Linked DNA regions of Homo sapiens. The protein of the gene in region 1 purifies or fractionates together with the protein of each later gene. This does not show direct contact. Each region holds a gene or a part of one and is shown in the gene's direction. Other genes may lie near its edges.

Region 1 (3,910 bases):
GCTTCAGACTTCATTATTTCCTAAATAACATTAACTCTACAAAAACAGAGTCACTTAAACAGCCAATAGTGTGTAACCACAAGTTTTAGCAACAAAAACCAAGGGCTCCCCAGAGAACCGGAAGCACGTGTTTCAGTATAATGCTTTCCAGCTATTCCTGGAAAGTTGGCACCCTGGGCCATTCACAAACTTTTTTTGAGTGCCCACCTGTCGGGAGCAGGGACGTGGCCCTCCTAGGCACCGGGCACATAAGCTGGTGGACTGGTTGACCCCGAGCTCTCTAGAGCTCACCAAAGTGAGCATCCAGAGCCCCAAATGCTGGCCCAAATGAAGGGCTGCTGTGATGCTGCTGATCCCTGCTGTAATTTTTTTTTCTTCCTCTGTTGCGGTAAATCACGACTTCAGCACTTTGGCTGAAGTGTCGCGTTCAGCACAGAGGTGGAAGTAAGAGGCAGAAAACAGAAGAACCACGAGAGAAATGGATCCTGTCTATTAAGGCAACGTGATGCAGCGCTAAAAGGTTAGGAGGTTACGATTCCCGGGGCTAAGAGAAATAAACTGCTGGTGGTGAACGAAAGGGGTGCTGGAGCGCAGCGATCTCGAACCTTTCCCTTATAGCCAAACCCTGGCCAAGGCCACAAATTTCAAATCGCCTGAAAACCAAACTGTCTGGCGCTTAACGGTTACCTCGGCTGAGCGAAACCCTTGGCTGCTGCTGATTTAACTACAGGTCCGCGCGAGTTACTTTCCAGGGAACTGAATTCAGAACAAAGAGTTACCGAAGCCTTACTCCCTCTCCAAAATTAGAATTCCCTTTTTCTCTTAGTCATATAGGAAACACACAGTTCACAAGTCCTGTGGTGCAAAGGTGTGAACCCTGGCCCAGGGAGGTGGTGACTCTCCCCGCCCTCCGCCTGCCGGTTGTCCTGCTTCCGAAAGCAACCCACGACGGTCCCGCAGGGTGAGGGTTCCCTGGGATCAGTTCCCTGGGATCCGGAGAACGCCACGCGGAGTCTCCCTGCAGGGTGAGGGGCCCCGGGTTCCCGCCCCCTCCCCCTCTACTCTCCCATTCTGCGAGCGCAGCCAGCCTCCCCTCCCACGCTTCGGGAAGCGTCGCCCCCGAGCTCCTCGGTTCCTGGTGGTGGCTACTCGTGTTAGTGACTTCGTTTCTGCGCGTTTGCTTATTTTCATCTTTGCCTCAGTTCGAATGTGTCCCCGCCACCAGGCCCCGCTGCTGGGCGAGACCACTGAACCCCCTGAAAGCTTCCCCGGAGCCGCGCGCATAATCCCGGGACCCTCTCTGGAAGGCGTGCGGAGAGCGGTGCGCGTGGCCTGGCACCGGAAGGAGCCAGCTTCCGGGCTCCGAGGCACCCCCTGGACAGCGCCCCGGGCCGCGGGTTCCTCCTCCGATGCCCGGGCGTCGTCGCCGGGATCGGGAGCTTCGGGGGCCCGCCGGCACCGACGGTTTTCGCTTCCCTGGCGGGCAGCTGGACGAGGTCCCGCCGCTGCACCGGGAGGGACAGTGGGTGGAAAAAGCCGCTGCAGCGCCGGGGCGAGGGGGCTGGGGGCGCCGTCACTTGTTGCGACCAATAAACGGCGCTCGATCCTGATGCGCTGTTTCTAAAATCTTTAGCTGTGTCCCGATCCCTCCAACCCAAGCCCCTCGGCCAGGAGGAAGGGGCAAGCGAGAGCCGCTGGCTCTGTGGGGGGAGAGGGGCGCCGCGCCCCAAGAGCCCCCGTCCCGCCCTGCGGCAGCCGCCCCGGGGCGCCCAGCCGCCCGCTTCCCTCCGCAGAGCGTCTTCCCTGACGGTGAAACCGCGCGGGACACAACCCACCGCGGCTCATCACCCACTTACAAATAGCTGTCGCTAGGATTCCCGCCACTCCTCTCAGACCGGCCCCCCCGCCACCTCTGCCACTTTTCGGAGTCCCCCGCCCTCGTCACTGCCTCCCCGGAGCTGCGGGGCAGTCGGACGCAGAGCTGCCTAACCGCAAGAACGCCTGGCCGGAGCTGCCCTCTGCAGCCGAGCCGGCGCCCCCTGCCCTTCGCCGCCGCGCTGGGCGGGCGCCCCCGCCGCCCTCACTCCGCTGCTCCCGGCTCCTCGCGCGCAGGTCGCGGAGCTCCGCCACCGCTGGGTGCGGCGAGGCCGGCGCGATGCGGCAGCTGTGCCGGGGCCGCGTGCTGGGCATCTCGGTGGCCATCGCGCACGGGGTCTTCTCGGGCTCCCTCAACATCTTGCTCAAGTTCCTCATCAGCCGCTACCAGTTCTCCTTCCTGACCCTGGTGCAGTGCCTGACCAGCTCCACCGCGGCGCTGAGCCTGGAGCTGCTGCGGCGCCTCGGGCTCATCGCCGTGCCCCCCTTCGGTCTGAGCCTGGCGCGCTCCTTCGCGGGGGTCGCGGTGCTCTCCACGCTGCAGTCCAGCCTCACGCTCTGGTCCCTGCGCGGCCTCAGCCTGCCCATGTACGTGGTCTTCAAGCGCTGCCTGCCCCTGGTCACCATGCTCATCGGCGTCCTGGTGCTCAAGAACGGCGCGCCCTCGCCAGGGGTGCTGGCGGCGGTGCTCATCACCACCTGCGGCGCCGCCCTGGCAGGTGAGCGGGCCCCCGCGCCGACCCCCAGCCGACCCCACCCACCCCGCTCCGTCGGGCAGAGACCGCGGGGATCACTGAGTTCAACGACCTCACTTCCAGATGGGGAGACTGAGGCAGAGAGAGCCGGAGAGCTTTGAGAGTGGTCGCTCAGCTCGCAAAAGGGACTTCCGAGACCCAGAGAGCTCCCCAGCGCCCCACCAAGTCCCCCTGCCCCCTAATGTCCTGGCTTCCGACCCTCGCCCATGCTTCACCCGGCATCGCCCTTCCTGTCGCCCCCTCTCCTGGTCTTCCCCTGTCACCCCATTCTCCGGGAGAGGTGGGAGGGCCGCCTGAGCCTGGGAGCTGGAGTCCTCCAAGCCTGGACCAAGCCGGAAGGAGGGGGCCGTGAACTTCCTTGGGTCACGAGGGGCTGGAATGGAGGTGGGGGATGGGGGCGAAGCTGAGGGTTCCCGGGGCTACTGCGGGGTGTCTCGTGCTGCGCAGGGGGCTGCGGCCCTGGGGCAGACGACCCAGGTGCTGAGCGAGACGAGAGCCTGGGCAGGGGGAAGCTTCACTGGGGGCCAGAACAGGCGTTCTCCCCCGCGCCTGGCCCGCTCCGGGTTGCAGGCCACTGGCTGGGGCTCCCTCTCCCTTTGGTGCCCCACGGGGCAGGGGCTCCGGGGTGCAGGTACCACGCGCCCAAGTGACCTCGGTGCCAGCTCGGGGAAGCCACAGCACCTGCCCCGAGGGCATCTGCGCTCTCCGGGGCCTTTGTCTTGGACAGAGGAAGATGGAGTGACCCGGGGATATGGCGGGAAGGCGCTCTGAGCACTGAGTTTGGCTGTCGCATTTGACACGGGTGGCCGAGGGACGGCGGGCGTCTGTCACTCAGGAATCCGGTGGGCAGAGCTGGGGCGCGAACCCAGTCTCCTTTCCTACCCGACGCGTTTTCCCCGTGGGTCCCCGCCCACGCCAACCTGCTGTCTTCTCTCTTTTTCCTTCCCGCCCGGGCTCGGCCGTCCTCCTCGTGCGCCGCAGGAGCCGGCGACCTGACGGGCGACCCCATCGGGTACGTCACGGGAGTGCTGGCGGTGCTGGTGCACGCTGCCTACCTGGTGCTCATCCAGAAGGCCAGCGCAGACACCGAGCACGGGCCGCTCACCGCGCAGTACGTCATCGCCGTCTCTGCCACCCCGCTGCTGGTCATCTGCTCCTTCGCCAGCACCGACTCCATCCACGCCTGGACCTTCCCGGGCTGGAAGGACCCGGCCATGGTCTGCATCTTCGTGGCCTGCATCCTGATCGGCTGCGCCATGAACTTCACCACGCTGCACTGC
Region 2 (3,910 bases), on another chromosome or scaffold:
TTTTCTTTCTTTCTTTTTTTTTTAAATCTATTTATTTATTTGAGACAGAGTCTTGTTCTGTTGCCCAGGCTGGAGTGCAGTGGTGTGATCTCGGCTCACTGCAACCTCTGCCTTCAGGTTTCAAGTGATCTGGTGCCCCAGCCTCCTCGGTAGCTGGGATTACAAGCCTGTGCATGATACTCGGCTAATTTTTGTATTTTTAGTAGAGATGGGATTTCGCCATGTTGTCCAGGCTGGTCTTGAACTCATGACCGCAAGTGCTCTGCCCGCCTTGGCCTCCCAAAGTGTTGGGATTACAGGTGTGAGCCACCATGCCCGGCCTCGTTTGTTTTCTTTATACTTTCAGTGTTTTCTAAAATTCCAAAAAGGAATATTACAGTTACCCCCCATTGAAAGGTATTTTTAAAATTGTTTCTTTTCAGGGTTCGGCAAAAGCAGAACAAATATCCGATACTATTTTTAACTCAAGGAAAATCTGAGATTTATCCTGAACTCATGGACCTCAGATCTCGGACAACCCCCATTGCAATGAGCTTTGCACAGTTTGAAAATCTACTGGTAAGTTATGTTTGAATTTTTATCTTTTTAATGTTCTGTTTTCTATTTTGGAGTAGTAGTAAAGATTTCATATTACTTTACCCATCTAATGTTAACGTTTTGACTAAACTGTAGCAAACAAGTGGCTCTACTTAAAAACGAGGATATTAGATCTCAGGATGAAAAACAATTACATTAAGTACAAAATTTGTTATAGGCATACGTTAAATTTTTTAGTTTAACTTTCTGAATAGATTTTATGAATAATCTAAAAATGTTCAGACTGTATGCCTTTTAAAAATATTATTCCCATTTTACAGATGAACGTGAACTTGTTTTGGTAGAGCATTCCATTAGTACATTTTTTGACTGCACATTCAATATGTATGCTTATACATTATGTATATATTAATATATTGTGAATATATTTATGTATGAAGTGTCCATTAAAAAGAATAAGTTAAAGTAATTGGAAGAAAAAAATCTACCATTTTCTTTTCCCGCCTGCTGTACTTTGGAGAGCACTGATTTAGAGTGTGAGCATTTAGCTTTGCAGTTAATGTTTCTTTTTCATGCACAACTAATTTTTCTTCTTCTAGGGGATAAATGTACATACTGAAGACTTGCTCAGAAACCCATCCTATATTCAAGAGGCAAAAGCTAAGGGACTAGTCATATTCTGCTGGGGTGATGATACCAATGATCCTGAAAACAGAAGGAAATTGAAGGAACTTGGAGTTAATGGTCTAATTTATGATAGGTATTTGTTTTTCATGAAAAATTTTCATGGAATTTAGAAGTATAGATTTCATCTTACGAAATTATAAATAAAATTAAACTTAGTTAAGTTAAAATTCTGCAGTTCAGCCTGAGGTTATCTTGACATTTGCCTGTGGGTGTTTTCAAAGTTTGAAGGATAGCAGAATCACTTGGGAAGCTTGTTAAGGATTCAAATGACTGGGCCTTAACTCAGATATATATACTAAATCACCCTGGGGGTGAGGGTGACTGCCAGCCCTTAGACCTCTTCTCTGTCTATACCAACTTTTTCATTCCTCTTGTCCAATTCTGTGGCTTTTCATAACTTTCTGTGTTCTCACACTTACGTATCTCCAACTCAGACCCTTCCCTAGACCTCTGTAGACTTTTATTTCCAGGTACTGACACCTGTTCCTCTTACAGTCTTCCTGATTTCAGTATAAGTGACAATTCAGACCATATTCTTAGTCTTCCATGACTCTGTTCTTTATCTCATACCCCAAATCCAGTCAGATAGAAAATCTTTTTGTTCTGTCTTCAAAATATATCCTGAATCAGACTACTCACCAAGTTAACTGTTGTCACTCAAGTAAAGCAGCTCATCTTTGGTGTGGATTGTTGAGGTAGCCTGCCCCCTGGTGACTGCCTCTACCCTTAACGGTCAGGCTGTTTATTCTTAGTACAGTAGTGAGAGGGAAGCTTTTAAGACCTATGTCTGATCATGTTGCTACTTAAAACTCTCCCACAGTTTTCTGTGTCACCTAAAGGAAAAGCTGAAGCCTGAGGGCCCTATATGAGCCAATCTGCCACCCCACCACCTTCAACCCTCTTTCCCTCTCTGACCTTCCACAAAATTCCCCCATCTGCTGTTTCCCATTCTTTGGAGAAAGACTTCCGTAACAATTTAAATGTCACCTCAGTGAGGACTTTCTTGAATAACTGATTTCAAATAACAACTTCTATTCACAGTGCACTCCCTGACTTGTCTCCATATCATTTATCATCATCTGACACACCACATATTCTGTGTTACATTTTACTTGTTTTTCTCCCTAGCCCCTTTCCTCCATCCTCCTGGGCACTAATGCACACATGCAAATGAGAATATAGGCTCCATGAGGAGGGCAAGGCTGTTTGCCTGATTTGTTCATTGCTATTGAGGTTAGAACAATGTGGGGCATCCAGTAGGGAGTCAAATAATTTATTGAACAAATATTTTTTTTTCCATCAGCTTCTTTGGCAGCCACTAATCTGAGAGTCAAAAAGGTTTCTTTAGTATAAAGATATTTGGGGTTAGAAGGGATGTCATTTACTCTGCTGAGGGATTAGCAGACTTGCTCATACAGGTGTACCTCAGCGATAGTGAAGGCTGGGATCCAGACCACCACAGCAAAGCAAGTCCTAAATCTTTTGGTTCCGAGTGCATATAAATGTTATGTTTAGGCCGGGCGCAGTGGCTCACGCCTGTAATCCCAGCACCTTGGGAGGCTGAGGCGGGCAGATCATGAGATCAGGAGTTTGAGACCAGCCTGACCAACATGGTGAAACCCTGTCTCTACTAAAAATACAAAAATTAGCCGGGTGTGGTGGCACATGCCTGTAATCCTAGCTGCTCGGGGCTGAGGCAGGAGAATCACTTGAACCCAGGAGGCAGAGGTTGCAGTGAGCCGAGATCGCGCCACTGCACTCCAGTCTGGGTGACAGAGTGAGACTCTGTCTAAAAAAAAAGTTATGTTTATACTACATTGTAGTTTACCAAGTGTACAGTAGCGTTGTGTCTGAGAAAACACAGTATATATCTTAATTTTAAAATACGTTATTACTAGGAAATGCTAACAATCTACCTTCAGCAAATCATAATCATTTTGCTGCTGGAGGGTCTTGCTTTGATGTTGATGGCTGCTGACTGATTAGGGTGGTGGTTGCTGAAGGTTGAGGTGGCTGTGGCAGTTTCTTAAAATAAGACACAAATGAAGTCTGCTGTACCCGTGGACTCTTCCTTTTACACAATATTTCTCTGTTGCACATGATGGTGTTTAAGAGCATTTTTCACCCACAGTAAAACATCTTTTTTATTTGTTTTTGCTTTTTGAGACAGAGTCTCACTCTTAATACCCTGGCTGGAGTGCAATGGCATGATCTTGGCTCACTGCAACCTCCATCTCCTGGGTTCAAGCGATTCTTCTGCCTCCTGGGTAGCTGGGATTACAGGCGCACGCCTGCCACCATGCCTGGCTAATTTTTGTATTTTTACTAGAGAAGAGGTTTTGCCATGTTGGCCAGGTTCTTGAACTCCCGACCCCAAGTGATCCACCCGCCTTGGCCTCCCAAAGTGCTGTGGGATTACAGGTGTGAGCCACCGCGCCCTGCCAAAACATCTTTATTTTTATTTTATTATTATTTTTTTGAGATTGAGTCTCGCTCTGTCGCCCAGGCTGCAGTGCAATGGCACAATCTCGGCTCACTGCAACCTCCGCCTCCCAGGTTCAAGTGATTCTCCTGCCTCAGCCTCCCGAGTAGCTGGGACTGCAGGCATGCACAACCACATCCAGCTAATTTTTGTATTTTTGGTAGAGACAGGGTTTCACCATATTGGCCTAGGCTGTTCTTGAAT

What was found.
Region 2: the proteins of SLC35D3 (region 1) and GPCPD1 purify together in Homo sapiens (affinity purification with mass spectrometry; 3 studies listed by BioGRID and IntAct, with this or other methods). This does not show direct contact.

What each region holds. Positions count from the first base shown.
Region 1 is NC_000006.12:136,920,274-136,924,183, forward strand, and holds the start of SLC35D3 (solute carrier family 35 member D3), read left to right. Parts: upstream 1-2,027; 5' UTR 2,028-2,155; coding exon 2,156-2,594; intron 2,595-3,611; coding exon 3,612-3,910. UniProt on the Homo sapiens protein: Probable UDP-glucose transmembrane transporter involved in UDP-glucose transport from the cytosol to the lumen of synaptic vesicles. It is involved in platelet dense granules maturation.
Region 2 is NC_000020.11:5,555,332-5,559,241, reverse strand, and holds part of GPCPD1 (glycerophosphocholine phosphodiesterase GPCPD1), read left to right. Parts: intron 1-422; coding exon 423-558; intron 559-1,136; coding exon 1,137-1,297; intron 1,298-3,910. UniProt on the Homo sapiens protein: May be involved in the negative regulation of skeletal muscle differentiation, independently of its glycerophosphocholine phosphodiesterase activity.